Linked DNA regions of Homo sapiens. Changing the gene in region 2 together with the main gene of any one other region gives a genetic interaction. Each region holds a gene or a part of one and is shown on either strand. Other genes may lie near its edges.

Region 1 (5,765 bases), on a different chromosome or scaffold from region 2:
TAACAAGGGAGGAATATGAGCTGGAGAGAAGATTTGACAAGTCTGCAGGGTGCAGCGGTGCAGAATTCCTTAGGCTATGAACAGAGGTCAATGTTTGTGGCAGGACATCATTTTAAAACATTAACTGAGGCTTCTTTCCTTCTCCTACCACCTTGCACTTTCAGGTGCCCGCAACCAGTCTTAGAAAAAATTGCCTCCTAAATGCACAGCCCTCTAAAAGGCAAGAGATTATTCAAGGAGCACAAATATTACAATTTTTGCCTGTAAGTTCCAAGACAGTCTTTAAAGTCGTGGTAGAAAAAAACTATCTTGAAAGGCAACATGGTTTATTAGCCAGACTTTCTCAGAGAGGAGGTAATAATGGCCACATTTATTAAGCATCCAATATGCACCAGGCAACAAGTTCTGAGTTCTCCACATTTTGTCCTCAGGACAACCCTGAGTTAGGTAGTGTTGTTGCCCACATTATATGTTTGAGGAAACTGAAGTGCATAGAGGGGAATTAACTTACTCAAGTCACACAGCAAAGATGAGACTTCAGCCCAACAGTCTGGCTCCAGATCCCATACCTTTGGGATGGTGTTCTGTTTCCAGTCATCTGTCTTTGAATCTCAAGGGTCAAACAGGATGTTCCTGACTGCACCCCACCCCAAGATGGGTCAGTGATGGGAATGAAGGAGGAATCTAGAGGTGAAAGGGTGAAGACGTGCCCAACCCCTGACACTTGTGAGAGTGCCTGGCACATAGCAGAAGAGAGTAGGGGGAGGATTCAGATAGCAGCTGATGGACAAGCAGCCTGGGCAGAGTCAGAGGGCTCAAAAGAGGAAAAATAGGAGCTGCCTGAAGTTAGGGAAAGGGGTCACAAAAGCGATCAACTGGAAGGGGGAGACATAGGGTGGGACATTAGCAAGAAAGGAAACAGAACTCCTGAGAGCCTGCCAGGGTATAAGCTGCACCCTTCTATCCTTGTGTTCTGAACTGGCCAGGGACCTCGGTCTTGGGACACTCCCAGACCAAAAGAAAGGATCTGCCCCTATGGTTGCTTCTCACTTAGCCTCAGTCGTACCTCTTAAATCCGTTCTTAATCCTGGTCCCTCTCCTGCTCAAAAACCTCCCATGGCTCCACATTGTCCACAGGATAAAGTCCATACTTGGGCTCTGAGAGACCCTGCTATAAGCATGGAGGCCCTATGCTCAGCCAAAGAGGCAGTCAGGTTCTTGGTTTCAGGGAAAACATCCCGCCTAACCCACCCAGGTTAGGCCCCTTCCCTGAAGCCTCCCAGTCCCCAAGAGCCCCCTGCAGGCTGTCAGTGAGGCCCAGGCAGAGGTGACAGCACCGTTTTATTCATGACAATCTGCAAAAAAACAGGTGGATGGGTCAGAAAGTCACTGCAAGCTTACATTCAGGGGCTCCACCCGCAGCCAAAGCCCGCCCTCGGCGCGCATGATCAATTCCAGCTTCCTGCGGGGCTCAGTGTGGTCTGGCAGGAACCGGAAGTGCAGCAGCATCAACGCCAGGACCACTTTCATCTCCGCCATGGCGAACGCCTGCCCGATGCAGTTCCTGCAGGCGGGAGTGGGGACTGTGACTGTGCCCAAGACCCGCATTTGGGTCCCATCAACCCAGGAACCTGGCCTGGGACCCCCAACTGCACCCAGCTCAGCCTGAGAGAGAGAGAGAAAGACTAAGCGTGCCTGGGACTCCCATGTGGGCTTGTATGTCCCGGAGACTGGGCCTGACTCCAGCTCCCAGCTCAGACCAGCAGATGGAGAAGGGGATTTTGAGCACTCCGCGGACCCCTCTAGGACCTACTCATCCCCATTCTATGGACGTTTTCCCATAAACTGTGAAGGAATGGAGGGAAGGAGAGCTGGAACTGGGACCATCTGCAACGTCCCCCTTTTTTTAACTCCCGCACCCATCATCCCATCCCTGCCTCAGACACAGGGCGCTCTTACCTGGGCCCTGCGGAGAAAGGAATAAAAGCCAGAGGTGACCTCCCCTTGCTGTTCTCTGGGTCAAAGCGGAAGGGGTCGTAGACCTGCAGGTGAGACAAAGAAGGTTTGCCAGTGGGATTTCCTATGTCCAGCAGCCTTGGAGAGACACTTGTGTGTGTTTTGGGGTGAGGTGATGTTGGATTTTCCTCATCAAAACCCTGCCCCCTCCACTAGGAACCTTGGAATTCACACACACACACACAAAAGTAGAGGATGGGGGTGGTGGTGGTGAATGGGGAAGGCAGCACCTCAGGATCCGGCCACACAGTTGGGTTGTGATGGACCCCTATAATATCGATGAGGCAGGTAATGCCTGTGGGAGAGAAAGGGGCAGTCAGGACAAGGATCCCCTGAGGGAACCATCTTCCTACCCGGGAGGCTTCTCCCCCTGAGGCTGTGGGCACCTTTGGGGATGACTCGGCCATCTGGGAGAACAATGTCCTGGGTGCAGCATCGGGAGATGAAGGGAGCTGGGGGATGTAACCTCAGGCTCTCCTTCACGCACATGGTCAGGAAGGGCAGCTGGGCCAGGTCGTCCCTAAGGAAACACCCCAGCCCCAGTCATTATCAAGGGAACAAATACACAACTCTCCACCTTTTCTATTTGCAAATGAGACCTTTTCTCCCTATCACAAAATAAACTCCACGGGGATCAAACATTTGAGAATTTTAAAAAGCAGAAAACAATTAGAGAAGCAGAGAATTAGAAAAGTACCAGAGAAAATTTAGCCAAATAGATAAAAATAAATACTCTGAGGAAAACACCCAGAAGCCAGCGGTAAAAAATTAACAAACTCACATAAAAATAAATATTGTCTATGGCAAGAAAGCAAACTCAAATGCAAATGAATAACAAACAAAATACCCAGATCCAATGTTTTGCTCTTATTTAGCGTGATGCTAGAGATACCAGCAAGTGCAATTAGGCAAGGGAAAAAAGGAGAGTCATGCAATTTGTTTTTTTTTTTTTATTATTATTATACTTTTAGGGTACATGTGCACAATGTGCAGGTTAGTTACATATGTATACATGTGCCATGCTGGTGTGCTGCACCCATTAACTCATCATTTAGCATTAGTTATATCTCCTAATGCTATCCCTTCCCCCTCCCCCCACCCCACAACAGTCCCCAGAGTGTGATGTTCCCCTTCCTGTGTCCATGTGTTCTCATTGTTCAATTCCCACCTATGAGTGAGAACATGCGGTGTTTGGTTTTTTTGTCTTTGCGATAGTTTACTGAGAATGATGATTTCCAATTTCATCCATGTCCCTACAAGGGACATGAACTCATCATTTTTTATGGCTGCATAGTATTCCATGGTGTATATGTGCCACATTTTCTTAATCCAGTCTATCATTGTTGGACATTTGGGTTGGTTCCAAGTCTTTGCTGTTGTGAATAGTGCCGCAATAAACATACATGTGCATGTGTCTTTATAGCCGCATGATTTATAGTCCTTTGGGTATATACCCAGTAATGGGATGGCTGGGTCAAATGGTATTTCTAGTTCTAGATCCCTGAGGAATCGCCACACTGACTTCCACCATGGTTGAACTAGTTTACAGTCCCACCAACAGTGTAAAAGTGTTCCTATTTCTCCACATCCTGTCCAGCACCTGTTGTTTCCTGACTTTTTAATGATTGCCATTCTAACTGGTGTGAGATGGTATCTCATTGTGGTTTTGATTTGCATTTCTTTGATGGCCAGTGATGGTGAGCATTTTTTCATGTGTTTTTTGGCTGCATAAAGTGTTGGAAGTTCTGGCCAGGGCAATTAGGCAGGAGAAGGAAATAAAGGTTATTCAATTAGGAAAAGAAGACGTCAAATTGTCCCTGTTTGCAGATGACATGATTGTATATCTAGAAAACCCCATTGTCTCAGCCCAAAATCTCCTTAAGCTGATAAGCAACTTCAGCAAAGTCTCAGGATACAAAATCAATGGACAAAAATCACAAGCATTCTTATACACCAATAACAGACAAACAGAGAGCCAAATCATGAGTGAACTCCCATTCACAACTGCTTCAAAGAGAAGAAAATACCTAGGAATCCAACTTACAAGGGACGTGAAGGACCTCTTCAAGGAGAACTACAAACCACTGCTCAATGAAATAAAAGAGGGTGCAAAGAAAGGGAAGAACATTCCATGCTCATGGGTAGGAAGAATCAATATCATGAAAATGGCCATACTGCCCAAGATAATTTATAGATTCAATGCCATCCCCATCAAGCTACCAATGACTTTCTTCACAGAATTGGAAAAAACTACTTTAAAGTTCATATGGCACCAAAAAGGAGCCCGCATCGCCAAGTCAATCCTAAGCCAAAAGAACAAAGCTGGAGGCATCATGCTACTTGACTTCAAACTATACTACAAGGCTACAGTAACCAAAACAGCATGGTACTGGTACCAAAACAGAGATCTAGATCAATGGAACAGAACAGAGCCCTCAGAGTTAATGCCACATGTCTACAACTATCTGATCTTTGACAAACCTGAGAAAAACAAGCAATGGGGAAAGGATTCCCTGTTTAATAAATGGTGCTGGGAAAACTGGCTAGCCATATGTAGAAAGCTGAAACTAGATCCCTTCCTTACACCTTATACAAAAATTAATTCAAGATGGAATAAAGACTTAAACGTTAGACCTAAAACCATAAAAACCCTAGAAGAAAACCGAGGCATTACCATTCAAGACATAGACATGGGCAAGGACTTCATGTCTAAAACACCAAAAGCAATGGCAACAAAAGCCAAAATTGACAAATGGGATCTAATTAAACTAAAGAGCTTCTGCACAGCAAAAGAAACTACCATCAGAGTGAACAGGCAACGTACAAAATGGGAGAAAATTTTCGCAACCTACTCATCTGACAGAGGGCTAATATCCAGAATCTACAATGAAGTCAAACAAATTTACAAGAAAAAAACAACTCCATCAAAAAGTGGGCGAAGGACATGAACAGACACTTCTCAAAAGAAGACATTTATGCAGCCAAAAAAACACGAGAGTCAGGCAATTTGAAATGTGGTAGTAAATGTATCATTTTGGCAGATAGTGATTTTATACTTAGAAAACACTAGAGGCCCCACTGGAAAACGTTTATAAACATTTAAGATCAAGCAAAGGAGCTGAATTCTCTGCTTAATCTTTCTTCTTTTGCAGTGGCTATTTAAAATTTTCATACCGTCTACAATTATCTGGTTCAGAATTTGAAAACTATAAAACATAATTCACTCCTATGGCCCAATGCCATTTACTTCTCCCCACACGTTGCCAGGTTATTATTTTTTTTAATGTATGCTTTCTGGGCTGATTTTAAGCATCTTAAAAAATTATATAGGAGCACACCATCTACTGTAGACACTATTCTGTATCTTTTTTGATGGGGGGAGGGAATGGAGTCTCTGTTGCTCAGGCTGGAGTGCAGTGACACAATCTTGTCTCACTGCAACCTCCACCTCCCTGGTTCAAGTGATTCTACTGCCTCAGCCTCCCAAGTAGCTGGGACTACAGGCATTCACCACAACAGCCAGCTAATTTTTTTTTTTATTTTTAGTAGAGATGGAGTTTCCCCAATTTGGCAAGGCTGGTCTTGAACTCCTGATCTCAAGTGATCTGCCCACCTTGGCCTCACAAAGTACTGGGATTACAGTCATGAACCACCGTGGCTGGCGTGTATCTTTTCTCTCATTTAACAGTTTATCACTTTTTCATAGCCCCTGGGACTTACGTCAAAATAAGGTTATCCCTACTCTGGCG
Region 2 (5,703 bases):
GGGCAACATAGTGGGGCTCCCTCTCTACTAAAATACAAATAAATTAGCCAGGTGTGGTGTCACATGCCTGTCGTCCCAGCTACTCTGGAGGGTGGGGCTGGAAGGTGGCTTGAGCCCAGGAGGTCAAGGCAGCAGTGAACCATGATGGTACCACTGCACTCCAGCCTCGGTGACAGGGTGAGGCCCTGTTGGAAAACAAAAATGAGGAAGAACCTATGTGGTTAATCACTATTCTTGTTCCACTTACATAAATAACCACACCAGGTTTAATGAGGCCAAACTTACTCTGCAATCAAATCAATCTTTTATTATCTTTGATAGAAATGTGTTAATTTGAAAACAATCCTACTTTTATTATCTTTGATAGAAATGCGTTAATTTGCAGCCGGTCACGGTGGCTCACACCTGTAATCCCAGCACTTTGGGAAGCCGAGGTGGGCGGATCACCTGAGGTCAGGAGTTCGAGACCAGCCTGGCCAACATGGCAAAACCCTATCTCTACTAAAAATACAAAAATTAGTCGGGCGTGGTAGCAGGCACCTGTAATCCCAGAGACTTGGGAGGCTGAGGCAGGAGAATCACTTGAACCCGAGAGGCAGAGGTTGCAGTGAGCCAATATTGCGCCATTGCACTCCAGCCTGGGCGACAGAGCGAGACTCCATCTCAAAAAAAAAAAGGAAGAAGGAAATTTGTTGGCTGGGTGCGGTGGCTCACACCTGTAATCCCAGCATTTTGGGAGGCCGAGGTGGGTGGATCACCTGAGGTCGGGAGTTCGAGACCAACCTGACCAACGTGAAGAAACCCCATCTCTACTGAAAGTACAAAAATTAGCTGGGCGTGGTGGCGCATGCCTGTAATCCCAGCTACTCGGGAGGCTGAGGCAGGAGAATCACTTGAACCCGGGAGGCAGAGGTTGCCGTGAGCCGAGATCAAGCCATTGCACTCCAGCCTGTGCAATAAGAGCGAAACTCTATCTCAAAAAAAAAAAAAGAAAAAGAAATTTGTTGACTGTAGAGAGAAAAATTATGTTTCAAAATAAAACTCGTGCCCCCACTATTAGACTCTAGCCCGGTTTGCTGTCTGGAGGTTTTGTCGCCCACCTGTGGTCCGGACCGGGTCCTGAACTTCAGTTTCCTCCAATATTTGCCTACAGCTCACCAAACCACTCTTTCCAATTTTTTCTTCCACCATTCCTCATGGAGTCACTGAAAATTAAAACTGCTCTTTTCCCAAAGCCCTGTAAGCTGAAGCTGCCCCACTTGATACAGACTTCAGAGAAATTTCCCCAGCAACTCTCGTACAGACGGCTTTCGTGCCCAGGCTGGGCGCAGCAGCTCAGGCCTGTAGTCCCGAGGCAGGAGGATTGCTAGAGCCCAGGAGTTCGAGACCAGCCTGGGCAACATAGCAAGACCCTGAATCTCCTAAAAAAAAAAAAATTTAAAATTAGCCAGGTGTGGTGGTGCATTCCTGTAGTCCCAACTATTCAGGAGGCTGAGGCGGGAGGATCACTTGAGCCTGGGAATTCAAGGCTGCAATGAGCTGTGGTCACGCCACTGCGCTCCAGCCTGGGTGACAGAGCAAGACCCTGTCTTCAAAAACAAAAACAGAAACAAAAAACGTTTTCTTACATCTGGAAAACAAAATATTAAAGAACCGTAATGCTTCAGACAAAAGTCATTAAACAGTAAACATCCTCGTCAGTTCATTCATTCCCATGTCATTAATTCTTGTTCTGGTTGATCCTGGGACAGAACTTTCATGGACCTGCCAGGTCCCTCCTTCGAGTTCTGGAAATTTGCACCCAATCCAAGGCTATGACCTGAACCAGAAACCTGTGCTCCAGAGCACCTGTCAGAATCCTTCCCAGGAATCTCTTTGAAGAATAAACAATTTGGGACTAGCTGATTGCAAAGCTTTCAGAAAAAATCAAAGTAAGATAATAACTGTGAATGACCGAAGACTTAAGATAGCCATGGCTCAGGATCTGATGAGAGTTTATTATATTCGTGACACGGTTGGCAAGGAAACTTGGTTATTTCTGTGGCATGCAGCATTTTAATGTAATAACCAAAATTATGACTGATAACATTGCACCAGATTTCTAGGAATAGCATGTGAGATAGGATATATATCATAGGATAACGTATCAGATTTCTAGGAATTTTATAGAGTTTCTGCAACATTCATATCAAAACCAAACCCGTAAATAGAACCTCCAGAAGACTTAGTGTGACTTACTATTTCACACGCTTTCCATCTCATGTAGCACATCGGATAAGCCTGATTAGTCTGACATCTGTCTTTCACAAGGCAGAAGACAAATCCTTTTGAGAAATCCTAGTACCTTTCCAGAAACTCCCAAAATTATTTTTCTTTCTTTCTTTTTTTTTTTTTTTTTTTTGAGATGGAGTCTCGCTCTGTCGCCCAGGCTGGAGTGCAGTGGCGCGATCTCGGCTCACTGCAAGCTCCACCTCCCGGGTTCACACCAGTCTGCTGCCTCAGCCTCCCACGTAGCTGGGACTACAGGCGCCCACCCCCACCACCACACCCAGCTAATTTTTTGTATTTTTTAGTAGAGACGGGGTTTCACCGTGTTAGCCAGGATGGTGTCGATCTCCTGACCTCGTGATCCACCTGCCTCAGCCTCCCAAAGTGCTGGGATTACAGGCATGAGCCACCGTGCCCCGCCTATTCTTCTTTTAAACCAAAAAAACTTTCAGGTGAGTCAAAACCAAAACCAATAAGCTTTTTATGACTTAACCATGGATGAAAGAGACACCTTCAAAATCAGGTGCAAAGGAGGCAGCCCCCCCAGCCCGGAACCACCCCACAGACAGTAGAGAAGGGCCCTTGTCAGCGCAGGAGTGAGGGGCGCTTTCCAGCACTGACCCAGCGACAAAGGTGAAGGTGGGAAAAGCCCCTTGTGGACGTGGACGGTGAAACTGAGCTGGCGCCTCGGGCAGTGATGCTTGGGCTGGCAGAGACCAGGGAGAGAGTTCTCACTGGTCATAAGGCCAAGCTCTCAAGACACAAGACAAACAGGAAAGAAACACCTGCCCCTGGGAGGAAAGAACCCTTGAGCACCAAAACCAAATTTACATGAGCGTCCCGAGCCACGCGAATGACTTTCTCCCACCAAGCTGAACTGGGAAGAGCAGGAACAAGGCGTGTTTGCCTCCCACCCTCAGCCGGGCACTGCAGACAGACAGCCAGAGAGCGGGCTGTGGTCAGAGTCCCCTCTGACCTCTGCTGGCTTCGTGTCAGTCTCCCGGATCTCATCTGCAGGCTCCAGAGCAGGCTGCGTGTCAGCAGCTGAGACCCAAGGCACACACGATGGAGTAAGGAGAGGAGCACACGCGTGTATTGGACGCAGACACTCCACATTTGTGAACCTTTCCTGCACCCATCACCTCAGTAAACCCCAGGGAAGCGCGTGGGCCTTGATCCCAGGTCCAGGCCCTCTGCCCAGGCCCCTCCTCAGCAGGGCCCGGCCATGCCCGCTCCACAGCAGCTCAGGTCGGGTTCTCGTAGCTGGTGAAGCTGGAGAGCCTCTCCCGCAGGGCCTTGAAGCAGGGTCTCTGCTCGGGGTCCCTGCACCAGCATGTCAGCATCAGCTTGTGCACGCTGGGCGGGCACTCCAGAGGGCAGGGCATGCGGTAGCCGGCGTCCACCCTCAGGAAGGCCTCATGGTTGGACATGCCTGCGGCCGACAGGGATGAGAAGAGCTGGGGCCCACCTGCCTACCCTCCCCCAAGAAGCCACACCAGCCATCCACTGCCCCTTCCTGGGGCCTTCCCCGCAGCCTCAGCTGCCATGCCTTGGCGCCACCCAGCACACTGTCCACTGCTAACACCTCCCTCTGGACAGGGCTCCAACAGGCAGCTCCAGGCACCAGCCTGGGTGCTCAGAGAATGGTGCAGGTGTGGAGTTCAGGCGATGGCCCGCGGAGGGCCCTGAAGCCCGTGGGGGAGGCACCCCCCAGCGTCCCTGCCGGCTACCCAGGACCTCCCCCACTCTGCCTCTCATGCCCAGTCAGGGACAGTGGGGACAGTACCTGGGTAGGGCACCTGACCCCTGCTGAACATCTCATGCAGGAGAATCCCAAAGGACCAGACGTCGGATTTGGTGGAGTAATGGCCTCGGGAGAGCGCTTCAGGGGCCGTCCACTTGTAGGGGATATTGTGGTCATGGGAGAGGTAGACGTCCTCCTGCAATCAGCCTGGAGCTGAGTGGGCCGTGGGGGCTGCCTGTGCCCTGCCCCCGAAGCATGGACGGGCACAGCGGCCGCATTGCCCCAGCAGTGGGACGGTGATGACCCCACTGTCTGACCCACGCACGGCCGCTGCAGCTAAGGCCACACTGGGGCCTGACCACCTTCAGGAGCCCAACTTCCCCTGGGATTGCAGGTGTGTGGGGACCGGAGGGCCCGGGGGACAGGGAACTGGGAGGCTCCCAGGCCGTCAGAGGGGCCCAGGGCTGGGCCAGTGAACAAGGCACGTGAACAAGGCAGCGGCTGCGTGGTGGGCCCTGCTGTGCGTGCCATTCAGAATGGGGGCCCCACCGGACTCACGGTGGCTTCCCACCTCCCTGCCCAGCCTGGGCTCCCGAGGGCAGGGGCCGCATCCTGCTCCCAGCCGAGTCCCCAGCTCCACACACAGGAAGCCCCCAGCCCTCCGGCCACGCCCCGGCCACGACCCCAGCCACGCCCTCTGAGGGCCCTACCTTGATAAGCCTGGCTAACCCGAAGTCCCCAACTTTGCAGAGGGTGTTTTCCCCGACGAGGATGTTCCTGGCGGCCAGGTCCCGGTGGATGTAATTCTGCGACTCCAGGTAACACATGCCCTCAGCCACCTGCCAGGCGATGTCCAGCAGCTCCGAAACGGGCAGGACTTTCTCATCAGAGTCTGCAGAGGGGAGTGGAGCAGAGCCTGGGGTCAGCTGAGCCAGCTGAGGTGGGGAAGGGTTGGGGAGGCTGGGCCATGTCTCATCTGCCTCCAAGCTCTGCGGGCTCAGAGGAGGGGCCGGGGCAAAGGGCAGCTGGCCTGATTGAAAATTGGAACTGCAGGCCAGCTACCGCCCTTCTGGAAGGCAACTGTTTATCACGAACCAAGGAGCAAGCTGGGCGTGGTGGCTCACGCCTGTAATCCCAGCACTTTGAGAGGCTGAGGCGGATGGATCACGAGGTCAGGAGATCGAGACCATCCTGGCTAACACGGTGAAACCCCATCTCTACTAAAAATACAAAAAATTAGCCGGGCGTGGTGGCGGGCGCCTGTAGTCCCAGCTACTCGGGAGGCTGAGGCAGGAGAATGGCGTGAACCCGGGAGGCGGAGCTTGCAGTGAGCCGAGATCACGCCACTGCACTCCAGCCTGGGCGACAGAGCCAGACTCCGTCTCAAAAAAAAAAAAAAAAAATATATATATATATATATATATATATAATTAGCTGGGCGTGGTGACAGGTGCCTGTAATCTCAGCTACTCAGGTGGCTGAGGCAGGAGAATCATTTGAACCCAGGAGGTGGAGGTTACAGTGAGCCGAGACTGCGCCATTGCACTCCAGCCTGGGCGACAGAGTGAGACTCCGTCTCAAAAAAAAAAAAAAGAACCAAGGAGCAGTTCCTAGTGGTCTAGCCCAGCGATTTCCCTTCTGGAAGTTTGTGATGACGCGGGAGGAGCTGGACGCAGAAGGACCAGCGAAGA
Region 3 (5,765 bases), on a different chromosome or scaffold from region 2:
GCAGTGGCGCAATCTCGGCTCACTGCAAGCTCCGCTTCCCGGGTTCACGCCATTCTCCTGCCTCAGCCTCCCGAGTAGCTGGGACTACAGGCGCCCGCCACCACGCCCGGCTAATTTTTTGTATTTTTAGTAGAGACGGGGTTTCACCTTGTTAGCCAGGATGGTCTCGATCTCCTGACCTCGTGATCCACCCGCCTCGGCCTCCCAAAGTGCTGGGATTACAGGCGTGAGCCACCGCGCCCGGCCGGGCTAGAGTTTTTGCTATAGTAGAAGCAGCATTTCTCCAGAGCCCAGAACCATGGCTTACTGCCAGTGTGATCTTATGCTAATTGGATCACCTCTCCGAGCCTCAGTTTCCTCATCCGTAAAATGAGATTGAGAACAATTCCTCCCTCTTCAGTTTGATATGAGGATTGGACATAATGTATGTGCCAGGAGTACGAACGGCCGCAGGCACAGAGCAGATGCTGGAGAAATGGCAGCTACTGTTGTGTGGTCATTTTACTGTGGCAGAGAGTGTGCCCCTCCGCCGCCCAGTACTCACGGTCCCGCGGAGACAATGATGCTGCGCACACGGTCGAAGCCACGGTCTGCCAGATTTGAGCACTCCCCCGAGAATTCTGCTCGACGGCCCTGGAAGTTTTCCAGTTCGAAGACCACCAGCTGCAGGAGAGAAGCCCCCATGCCAAGGGCAGAGTGAGGGGGGAGTCAAAAATTCATTAAGTATCTACATAAATAAAAGCCAGCAGTGCAGGAGTCACATAAAAGTGTGATGAGCCACAGTTTGTGAAATGATCCTGTCCTCCCATCCCCCAATTCTTTACTGATTTTTGTTTTTTGTTTGTTTGTTTGTTTTTCTGAGTCTCACTCTGTCGCCCCAGCTGAAGTTCAGTGGCGCAATCATGGCTCACTGCAACCTCCGCCTCCCAGGCTCAAGCGATCCTCCCACCTCAGCCTCCGAGTAGTTGAGATTACAGGCACCCACCACCATGCCTGGCTATTTTTTGTAGAGACAGGATTTTGCCATGTTGCTCAGGCTGGTCTCGAATTCCTGAGCTCAAATGATTGGCCTGCCTTGGCTTCCCAAAGTGTTGGGATTACAGGCATGAGCCATTGCACCTGGCCTCATGCCCTAATTCTGAAGCTAAGATCTGCGCCATCATTAGGAACTTATGAACCTCCCTTTCAGGCCTTTCTTTGTGCTATTCCTCCTGCCTGGAATGCCTTCTCCACCACACATATCCAGCTTGGAGCTCCCACTGCCTAACTGAAGTTCCCTAATACGCATTCCAGCTCGTTATTCTGTTTTAGGCTCAGGTGCCACCTTCTCCAGGAAGCCTTCTCTGATTGCCCCTTCCTCCATCGGCCTTGGTTGAGCATCCCCCACTGTCCTCTCCCCATTAGCAGCACAACTAACCCACCACACAGTCACTGCTGTTTTGCTTTGGGGTCTCCCTCTCTCTCTGCACTCCCTCTCTCCCATTACCCAGCCCCTCCAAAGACCAAGGACTCCTCCAGGGCAGGGCCTGAGGTTGATCAATTTCTGTATCTCCAGCCCCAGCCCCAGTACCTGCCACAGAGCTGATGCTCAGGAGACACTTGCAAATCCAACCCTCCACAACATAGGGGAAAACTTGAGCTAATCTTCTCTCCTCACTAAGCCTCATGTTTGGTTCCTTGTCCACTTGCTGTTCCAAGTTGGGACAACGTTGCCATTCACATGGACCAAGGCACAATTTTCTGCCTTCTTTGAGCCTCAGTTTCCCCAGCTGTAAGAGGAGGGGAGGTTCATATAACCATGACCCAGCACTTCCACTTCTACCTTTGGTTGCCCAAGAGAAACTCCTGTATGTGTGCCCCGGGATGTTGCGGGAAGTCAGGGACCCCAAACGGAGGAACTGGCTGAAGCCATGGCAGAAGAACGTGGATTGTGAAGATTTCATGGACATTTATTAGTTCCCCAAATTAATACTTTTGTAATTTCTTATGCCTGTCTTTACTGCAATCTGTAAACATAAATTGTAAAGATTTCATGGACACTTATCACTTCCCCAATCAATACCCTTGTGCTTTCCTATGCCTGTCTTTACTTTAATCTCTTAATCCTGTCAGCTGAGGAGGATGTATGTCGCCTCAGGACCGTGTGATAATTGCATTAACTGCACAAATTGTACAGCATGTGTGTTTGAGCAATATGAAATGTGGGCACCTTAAAAAAGAACAGGATAACAGCAATTGTTCAGGGAATAAGAGAGATAACCTTAAACTCTGACCGCCAGTGAGCCGGGCAGAACAGAGCCATATTTCTCTTCTTTCAAAAGCAAATGGGAGAAATATCGCTGAATTCTTTTTCTCAGCATGGAACATCCCTGAGAAAGAGAATGCGCACCTGGGGTTAGGTCTCTAAACTGGCCCCCCTGGGCGTGGTCGTCTCTTATGGTCGACGCTGCAGAGATGAGATAGACTCCAGTCTCCCATAGCTCTCCCAGGCTTATTAGGAAGAGGAAATTCCTGCCTAATAAATTTTGGCCAGACCGGTTGATCTCAAAACCCTGTCTCCTGATAAGATGTTATCAATGACAATGGTGCCCAAAACTTCATTAGCAATTTTAATTTTGCCCCGGTCCTGTGATCCTGTGATCTCTCCCTGCCTCCACTTGCCCTGTGATATTCTATTACCTTGTAAAGTACTTGATGTCTGTGACCCACACCTATTCTCACACTCCCTCCCCTTTTGAAACTCCCTAATAAAAACTTGCTGGTTTTTGCAGCTTGTGGGGCATCACGGAACCTACTGACATGTGATGTCTCCCCCGGACGCCCAGCTTTACAATTTTTCTCTTTTGTACTCTGTCCCTTTATTTCTCAAGCTGGCCGACGCTTAGGAAAAATAGAAAAGAATCTATGTGAATATCGGGGCAGGTTCCCCGATACCAGGAGACAGGGATAAGAACGTCCAAGCCATGCTGTTCACGAGAGCAAAGCTAGCAACCACTGAAATCGTGCTTAGCAGGAAAGAGATGGTCACGCTCTGAAATATCAGGCAGCAGCCAGAATGAATGGCCGGCAGTCATGCGCAACAATATGGATGGATATTAGGGATCTCATAGTAAGTGAAAAGTACAAAGAAAAGCCCAGAATAATCACATTGCATATTTCAATAAATTAAAAACAAGTAAATCGGCCAGTTGCGGTGGCTCACACCTATAATTCCAGCACTTGGGGAGGCGGAGGCTAGGAGTTCGAGACCAGCCTGGATAATATGGCAAAACCCGTCTCATAATTCGGTCTCAAAATAAATGAATAAATAAAACAAGTAAATAAATATACATGTGTATGTGTGTATACATTTTTAAAGGAATAATGCATAAAATTGTATACAAAAGCAAGCAAGCAGATTACAGACACAGGTTGAGGATAGGACAGTATTTCCTGGAGTTGGGGAGGAAAATGATGGACTCAAGGGAGACACCTTAGAGTTAGGTAGAAAGTTTTTAACCAAGTCCTGGCTTTTATATGGGTGGTGGGTTTGTAGGTGCATATTGCATTATTAGAAATTAAATAAAACTAATGATTAAATAGGTACATAAATAAAAACCTGCCACGCACTGACCACATGAGAGCGTGTCATGAACTAGGGGTTGCAAAATGGCCTACTTCTGTGACCTGAGGTTGAAACCACACCAAACCAAATCCCAGGGGACTGGACACCTTGCTCCACAGGATGCCTTTCAGCCCAGACCACCTCGAGCAATTTTGAGGGTCTGAGGCCATCCTGCTGCCCCAGTGAGCCTCCAAGGACAGCTGGTTCCCTGCTGCTAAGCCAGCCCACTTCCTTTTCTTCTTTTTTTTTCTTGCTTTCGATAAACTCTAAGCATGTGCGTGTGCAGGTGTAGCCTGATTGCCAGGTGTCCCTTCAGCTGTGAAGCGGTATGGTTTGGTTGTTGTTATTGCACAACTCAACTATAGGTCCCCTTTTTCTTTCTATTCTTTTCTTTTTTTTTTTGATGGAGTCTCCCTCTGTTGCCCAGGCTGGAGTGCAGTGGCATGATCTCAGCTCACTGCAACCTCCGCCTCCTGGGTTCAAGTGATTCTCCTGCCTCAGCCTCCCAAGTAGCTGGGATTACAGGCGCCCACCACTACGCCTGGCTAATTTTTGTATTTTTAGTAGAGACAGGGTTTCACCATGTTGGCCAGGCTGGTCTCGAACTCCTGACCTCAGGTGATCCACCTGCCTCGGCCTCCCAAAGTGCTGGGATTACAGGCATGAGCCACTGCGCCCGGCCCCACTTTCTCCAAGTGTGTCAGAACCCCTGGCTATTTTATGGGCTCCCAGATTGGCTGGGCCACACTTGTGTCCCAGAAGGAGGAGGGAGGAGGAGGCCAAGGTGAGGGAAAAAGAGAATAGGGACAGAGGATAAGAGTCTGGGGAGGTGGAGAAGAAGAAAAGGGAGAGTAAATAGAAAGGAGAGAAAATAAGCCAAGAAAAAGGAGGAGAAAGAGGTGCGGAGGAGTAAGAGGTGAAAGAGGAAGAGGAGGAGGAGAAGAAGGAGGAGGAGGGAAGGAAGGAAAGAAGGCATGGCACCCAGCCACTGCACCCCCAGGTCCTTACCCTGTAGTTCCCAGGAGGCAGTTCCGCCGCCTTGGCGCTGGTAATAGGCACGGTTGTTGGGGCCAGGGTAGTGCCGGGACTAGGGGATGTTCCTGCAGGTGGGGCCCCCTTCCCCTTGGTGTCAGGCCCTGGGTTCACCGCCACTGTGGCCGAGGCCGAGGCCTTTGCAGCCTGAGACATGGTTCCCGCCTGCAAAAGTCTGTAAAGAAACTCTGGCCTTCAGGGATGACACCCCCAAACTGCCTCCTGCCCTCATAGCCCCACATCCTGTGCTTTCAGCCTCCTTGGAGCTCGTTTCCTCTCTATCTCCTTCTGAAACGGTTAAGCCTGGAAGTTTTTCTTTCATCCCTACTTCCCAGCCAAGACCTTCCCGTCTGGGGGCCACTCATCCCACATATATCCTTCCTCCAGGCTTTTGACCATGCGGTTCCCTCCACTAGCTGTTCCACCCTCCATTACCCCGCTAGGTCCTTCCTTAGCCCCCTGCAATTTTCCACACTGCTTATCACACTGATTTGCTTGTGCAACTCCAATTTGCCTCCCTAGACTAATAACAAGAAGTCCCATTTGGGAGTACTTAAGGTGTGCCAGGCACTGTGACATACATTAATTAACCCATCTGACCATGAACCTCACCCGATGGAGTAGCTGCTATCATGATCCCCTCTGAGCAGCAGGGGGCTGGAGAAGGAAGGGGCCCAGCTCAGGCCCAAACAGCTACTAAGTGGTAGGGCTCTGATTTCAACTCAAGGAAATGGAGCCAGCAACTGGGCTTTTAAAGTATTCTGCCATTTGCTTAATCTGATTTATTCACCGTCCATCCCTAACACTTGCTCTGCACCTGGCACATAGGAGATGCCCAATTAACATTTGTTCAGAGAATGAATGAATGCATGCTCCCAGCTCCTTTCCCCGTCTGCTTCCTCTGAGGGGTTGGTGTATGGGTGCAAATACAGGCCGGGGACTGAGGCTTATGGGAGGACCCAAGAGGATGTATTTACTGCATGTGGAGGGTTCTGAAAATGAGGACTGGGGCTGGGTAGGCTTTGGGTGGAGAGGGCTTTGGTCAATTCCAGTGGTTCCTTGTTGCTTTGGGGTCGTGGACTCCTTTGAATGTTTGATGAATACCTCAACTTTGTCCCCGGACAAAAAT
Region 4 (5,765 bases), on a different chromosome or scaffold from region 2:
ACTAAAAATACAAAAAAATTACCTGGGCGGGCATGGTGGCGAGCACCTGTAATATCAGCTACTGGGGAGGCTGAGGCAGGAGAATCTCTTGAACCCGGGAGGCAGAGGTTGCAGTGAGCCAAGATCACGCTACTGCACTCCAGCCTGGGTGACAGAGTGAGGCTCTGTCTCAAAAAAAAAAAACCAACAAAAAAACCAACCCATCTCTGGAAAAAATAAATAAATCAGCTAGGTGTGGTGGTGTATCCCAGCTACTTGGGAGGCTGGGGTGGGAGGATTGCTTGAGCCCGGGAGGTTGAGTCTGTACTGAGCTGAGATTGTGCCACTGTCCTCCAGCTCAGGTGACAGAGTGAGACGCCTCCAGGGCAAGGAAGTTGTGGGGTCCTGATGGGAATCTGGATTTCCTGAATGTCACTTAGGGTGATCAGTCCATGTGATGGTCTTTGGGTGTGTGGCGGGGCCTTTCCAGCCATCTGCTGTGAGTGGCAGAGCTGAAGTGCATTAAAAGCCTAGTGCTGTGTGATCAGTCTGGGTGTGCTCAGCCATGCCACATGGCGAGGATGGCACTGCACCGTCTGGGGTGCTGTTTCCAGGAAAGCCTTCCCTTAAAGCTGGCCACTGGAGTACCTGACTCAGGCTGATAAGGTATTTATAGTTCAAAAAAAGTTGCTGAATGGCAGTAATCCCCTGGTGAGGAACATTCCCCATGGCTGTGCTCTCCAAAGTTTGCCAAGATTGGGTGAAGACGTTCACTGTGACCTTGATTGTAGTGGCAAAACCTGAAACCAAGCTGTACTCATTTGTCAGGGGACTTACAAAGTAGAGTCAGCACATATTCATATACTGTCATCCTGGGCACCAATAGGGATTAGGGAGCTATAGTTGGATTGATCTGCCATGCTGTTCAGGATGGACTGGGAAGTTGAAAAAGGAAGTTGCAGAATTGGTGGGTATGGTAAAGACTCATTTGGTCAAATGAAGGCTGGGTGTAATTGTAATAAAGATAGACACATTTGGCTTGGTGCAGTGGCTCACACCTGTAATCCCAGCACCTTGGGAGGCCGAGGTGGGTGGATCACGAGGTCAGGAGTTCAAGACAAGCCTGGCCAACATAATGAAACCCCATCTCTACTAAAAAAAAATACAAAAAAGTTAGCCTGGCATGGTGGTGCATGCCTGTAGTCCCAGCTACTCGGGAGGCTGAGGCAGGAGAATCACTTGAACCCCAGAGGTGGAGGTTGCAGTGAGCCAAGATCACGCCACTGCACTCCAGCTTGGGCAACAGAGTGAGACTTTGTCTCAAAAAGAAAAAAAAAAAGACACATTTTTCCTCTGGGATGCTTCATTATAACAAACCTTTGACAGTCGGGAAAGGAGACTTGCTTTTTTTTTTTTGAGACAGAGTCTTACTCTGTTGCCCAGGCTGGAGTGCAATGGCGAGTTCTCGGCTCACTGCAACCTCCGCCTCCCAGGTTCAAGCAATTCTCCTGCCTCAGCCTCCTGAGTAGCTGGGATTACAGGCATCCGCCACCACACCCAGCTAATTTTTGTATTTTTAGTAGAGATGAGGTTTCACCATGTTGGTCAGGCTGGTCTCGAACTCCTGACCTCAGGTGATCCACCCACCTTGGCCTCCCAGAGTCCTGGGATTACAGGCATGAGCCACCACACCCAGCCAAGACTTGCTTTTTCTAACCTCTTTTGTCACACGCCTGTGAGGGAGGGTTGAGAAGTTGAACAACTTATTTTATTTCTTTCTGTATTGATGGAAATTTTCCCATGGCAGTTTATTTAAAGAAAAAGTAGGGCCAGGCACAGTTGCTCACATCTGTAATCCCAGCACTTTGGGAGGCAGAGGCAAGAGGATTGCTTGAGGCCAGGAGTATAATACCAGCCTGGGCAACATAACAAGACCCTGCCTTTAACAAAAATTTAAAAATTAGCCAGCTGTGGTGGTGTGTACCTATAGTCCTGGCTGCTTAGGAGGCTGAGGCGGGAGAATTGCTTGAGCCCAGGAATTTGAAGCTGCAGTGAGCTATGATCATACTCCTACATTCCAGGTCGAGCAACAGAGCGAGACCCTGTCGTTAAAACAAAACTAAAAAATACCCAGCAAGGTGCAGTGGCTCTTGTATAATCCCAGCATTTTGGAAGGGTGAATCGGATCACTGCAGGCCAGGAGTTCAAGACTAGCTTGGGCAACCTAGACCCTGTCTCTTTTTTGTTTGTTTGTTTTTTGAGACAGAGTCTCTCTCTTTCACCCAGGCTGGAGTGCAATGGCCTGATCTCGGTTCACTGCAACCTCCGCCTCCCAGGTTCAAGCGATTCTCCTGCCTCAGCCTCCCGAGTAGCTGGGATTACAGGTACCTGCCACCACACCCAGCTAATTTTTGTGTTTTTAGTAGAGATGGAGTTTCACCATGTTGGCTAGGCTGGTCTCGAACTCCTGACTTCATAATCTGTCCACCTCAGCCTCCCAAAGTGCTGGGATTATAGGCGTGAGCCACCGTGCCCAGCCTATTTTTTTTTTTTAATTAAAAAATAATTTATAGTCTGGGTGCTGTGGCTCACACCTGTAGTCCTAGCACTTTGGGAGGCCGAGGTGGGCGGATCACTTCAGGTCAGGAGTTTGAGACCAGCCTGGCCTACATGGCAAAACCCGTCTCTACTAAAAATACAAACAAAATTAGCCAGGAGTAGTGGCAGGCGCCCATAATTCCAGCTACTCAGGAGACTGAGGCAGCAGTATCATTTGAACCCATGAGGTGGAGGTTACTGAGAGCTGAGATGGCGCCACTGCACTCCAGCCTGGGTGACAGAGCGAGACTCTGTCTCAAAAAAAAAAAAAAAATTTATAACTGGGCATGGTGGTGCATGCCGGTAGTCCCAGTTACTTGGGAGGCTGAGGCAGGAGAATCGCTTGAACCCGGGAGGTGGAGGTTTCAGTAAGCTGAGATAGCACCACTGCATGCCAGCCTGGGTGACAGAGCAAGATTCCATCTCCAAAAAAAAAAAAAAAAAAATTAAAAGAAAATTGCTGGATCTTATTAGTGTATAGTAATTTTTTATTGATGTGTGGGAAATTATTCCAAAATTTAGCAACTAGAAGCAACAATCACCGTCTCTTTATGTGGGGAATTTGCAGTGGCTGTGTTTGGTGTAGTGGCTCTGATATTCTAAGGTTGCAGTCAAGATGTTGGCTAAGGATGTGGTCATTTGAAGGCTTCATGGGGGTTGGAGGGTCTGCTTTGAAGATGGCTCACTAGCAGTGCTGCCTTTGGGAGGCACAGACAGTTCGAGTGTCCTCATGACAAGGCAGCTTATTTCTCCCAGAGTGAGTGATCCAATAGAGAGTAAGGCAGATGCCTGGAGGTCTTTTGTGACCTAATATCAGGATTCACATTCTTTCTTTTTTTTATTTTTATTTTTTTGAGACAGAGTTTCACTCTTGTCACCCAGGCCAGAGTACAATGGCGTGATCTTGGCTCACTGCAACCTCCGGTCCCCGGCTCAAGCGATTCTCCTGCCTTAGCCTCCTGAGTAGCTGGGATTACAGGTGCCCGCCACCATGCCCGCCTTTTTTTTTTTTTTTTTTTTTTTAAATTTTTTTAGTAGAGATGGGGTTTCACCATTTTGGCCAGGCTGGTCTTGAACTCCTGATCTCAAGTGATCCGCCTGCCTTGCCCTCCCAAAATGCTGGGATTACAGGGTGAACCACCACGCCCGGCTACACTCTTTGATTTCTATAATACCCCGTTGGTGTTACAGATCAGCTCTGGTCATCATGGGAAGGGACTGCATCAGTGGGTTAATGCCAGGAGACAAGGACCACTGGTCACCATCTTAGAAGGTGGGGGACTATCATAGTCCCGCTTCTGGCGCCTAGTGATTGATTTTGTTCCTTCCACACACAGATACCCCACTCACTTTCTCCTAAGTCCATATTCTGTTACAGTATTAGAAGTCTGTTAGAAGTCTAGAACCTCATTTTGTCAAGTACAGGTGTAGTAGTACCTGCATTTCCTTTAGTACAGTTCCTTTCAATCTGAAGACATGAGAATTTAAAGAGACAAATTACCCCTCACACACCCAGCATACAATGGTGAGGTGGGCATGGGATGACTGGTATGTATGGGATAATTATTTCTTTTCTTTTCTTTCTTTTTTCTTTTTTTCTTTGTTTTTTTTTTTTTTGAGGTAGGGTCTCACACTGTCGCCCAGGCTGGAGTGCAGTGGTGCAGTCACTGCTCACTGCAGCCTCGAACTCCTGGGCTCAAGCAATTCCCCACCTCAACCTTCTAAGTTGCTGGGACTACAGGCACATGTCACCATGCCTGGCTACTTTTTTATTTTTTGTAGAGATGACGTCTTGCTATGTTGCCCAGGCTAGTTTTAAACTCTTGGCCTCAAGTGATCCTCCTGCCTCAGTTTCCCAGTAAGTGCTGGGATTATAGGCATGAGCCACTGAGTCCGGCCTGCATATTTAGGTTTTTATTATGACCACACTGTACTTCTGATACCAAAATCTGTATTAGTTATCTATCATTGTATAACAAATGACATCAAAACTTGGGTTAAAACAGCAATACACTTTTTTTTTTTTTTTTAAGACGGAGTCTTGCTCTGTCGCCCAGGCTAGAGTGCAATGGCGTGATCTCCACTCACTGCAACCTCTGCCTCCTGGATTTAAGCAATTCTCCTGCCTCAGCCTCCCGAGTAGCTGAGATTACAGGCACACGCCACCATGCCTGGATAATTTTTGTATTTTTTTTTTTTAGCAGAGACGGGGTTTCACCATGTTGACTAGGCTGGTCTCGAACTCCTGACCTTGTGATCTGCCTGCCTTGGTCTCCCAAAGTGCCAGGATTACAGGTGTGAGCCACCATGCCCGGCCTAGCAGTAAACTTTTATTACCTCTCACAGTGTCTGTGGGTCAGAAGTTTGGGAGCGGCTTAGCTGGTTGGTCTTGGTTTGGGGATCTCTCATAAGGCTGTAGTCAACATGTTGGCCAGCGCCCCAGTTATCGGAAGTTTTGATGGGTTTGGAGGACCCCCCTCTAAAGTGTCCCATACACAGGAAGCGAGTTGGCTGTGACTTTTGGAAAAAGGCCTTAGTTCGCTGCCGCGTGGGCTTCTTTATGAAACTGTTTGAATGTCTTCACAACATGATAGACAGCTTCCCCAAAGCGAGTCATCCAAGAGAGCAAAGCAGAAACTGCACGTTCTCTGAACTCACTTCTGAAGTCACATTTCACCCCTTTTTGCAGTCTCTGGATGGGTGCATAGGTCACCCCTCCCAGCACAGGCGGAAGCTATGCAGAGGCATGAATTCCAGGAAGCAAGGATCACTGGTGTCTGATTGGAGACTGGCTGCGGGTCTGATACTCCTTTCCCCAGCATAGCCCAGTCACAGTTTTCAACATTTCACATCTCTTGGTCTCTGGCATAGCAGATTCTGCCGAGTTATCCCTGGTTTTGCAAATTCTGACAGTGTCGCTGTAAGGTAGGGATGTCTCACTGTTGTAACCAGGAAAGAGTCTAGTTGGTGGTGAGTGTGGCAGGGACCAGTGTGGTCTCCAGAGACTCCTATGCCTTGTGTAGTGGCTCACGCCTGTAATCCCAACACTTTGGGAGGTCAAGATGGGAGGATTATTTGAGGCCAGGAGTTAGAGACCAGGCTGGGCAACGTAGCAAGACGCTGTCTCTACAAAAAATAAAATAGGCTTTGCGTGGTGGCTCATGCCTGTAATCCAAGCGCTTTGGGAG

The links.
Region 1: changes in PTK6 (region 2) and CYP4F12 together harm fitness more than expected from each alone (negative genetic interaction), as found in Homo sapiens cells (one large-scale study listed by BioGRID).
Region 3: changes in PTK6 (region 2) and CRYBB1 together harm fitness more than expected from each alone (negative genetic interaction), as found in Homo sapiens cells (one large-scale study listed by BioGRID).
Region 4: changes in PTK6 (region 2) and GPI together harm fitness more than expected from each alone (negative genetic interaction), as found in Homo sapiens cells (one large-scale study listed by BioGRID).

What each region holds. Positions count from the first base shown.
Region 1 is NC_000019.10:15,692,707-15,698,471, reverse strand, and holds the end of CYP4F12 (cytochrome P450 4F12), read right to left. Parts: intron 2,537-5,765; coding exon 2,403-2,536; intron 2,312-2,402; coding exon 2,247-2,311; exon of another isoform or gene 2,043-2,246; coding exon 1,960-2,042; intron 1,565-1,959; coding exon 1,387-1,564; 3' UTR 1,298-1,386; downstream 1-1,297. UniProt on the Homo sapiens protein: A cytochrome P450 monooxygenase involved in the metabolism of endogenous polyunsaturated fatty acids (PUFAs).
Region 2 is NC_000020.11:63,526,024-63,531,726, forward strand, and holds the end of PTK6 (protein-tyrosine kinase 6), read right to left. Parts: intron 4,905-5,703; coding exon 4,723-4,904; intron 4,209-4,722; coding exon 4,055-4,208; intron 3,701-4,054; coding exon 3,513-3,700; 3' UTR 1,978-3,512; downstream 1-1,977. UniProt on the Homo sapiens protein: Non-receptor tyrosine-protein kinase implicated in the regulation of a variety of signaling pathways that control the differentiation and maintenance of normal epithelia, as well as tumor growth.
Region 3 is NC_000022.11:26,611,528-26,617,292, forward strand, and holds part of CRYBB1 (beta-crystallin B1), read right to left. Parts: intron 4,812-5,765; 5' UTR 4,793-4,811; coding exon 4,613-4,792; intron 664-4,612; coding exon 545-663; intron 1-544. UniProt on the Homo sapiens protein: Crystallins are the dominant structural components of the vertebrate eye lens.
Region 4 is NC_000019.10:34,370,554-34,376,318, forward strand, and holds part of GPI (glucose-6-phosphate isomerase), read left to right. Parts: intron 1-5,765. UniProt on the Homo sapiens protein: In the cytoplasm, catalyzes the conversion of glucose-6-phosphate to fructose-6-phosphate, the second step in glycolysis, and the reverse reaction during gluconeogenesis.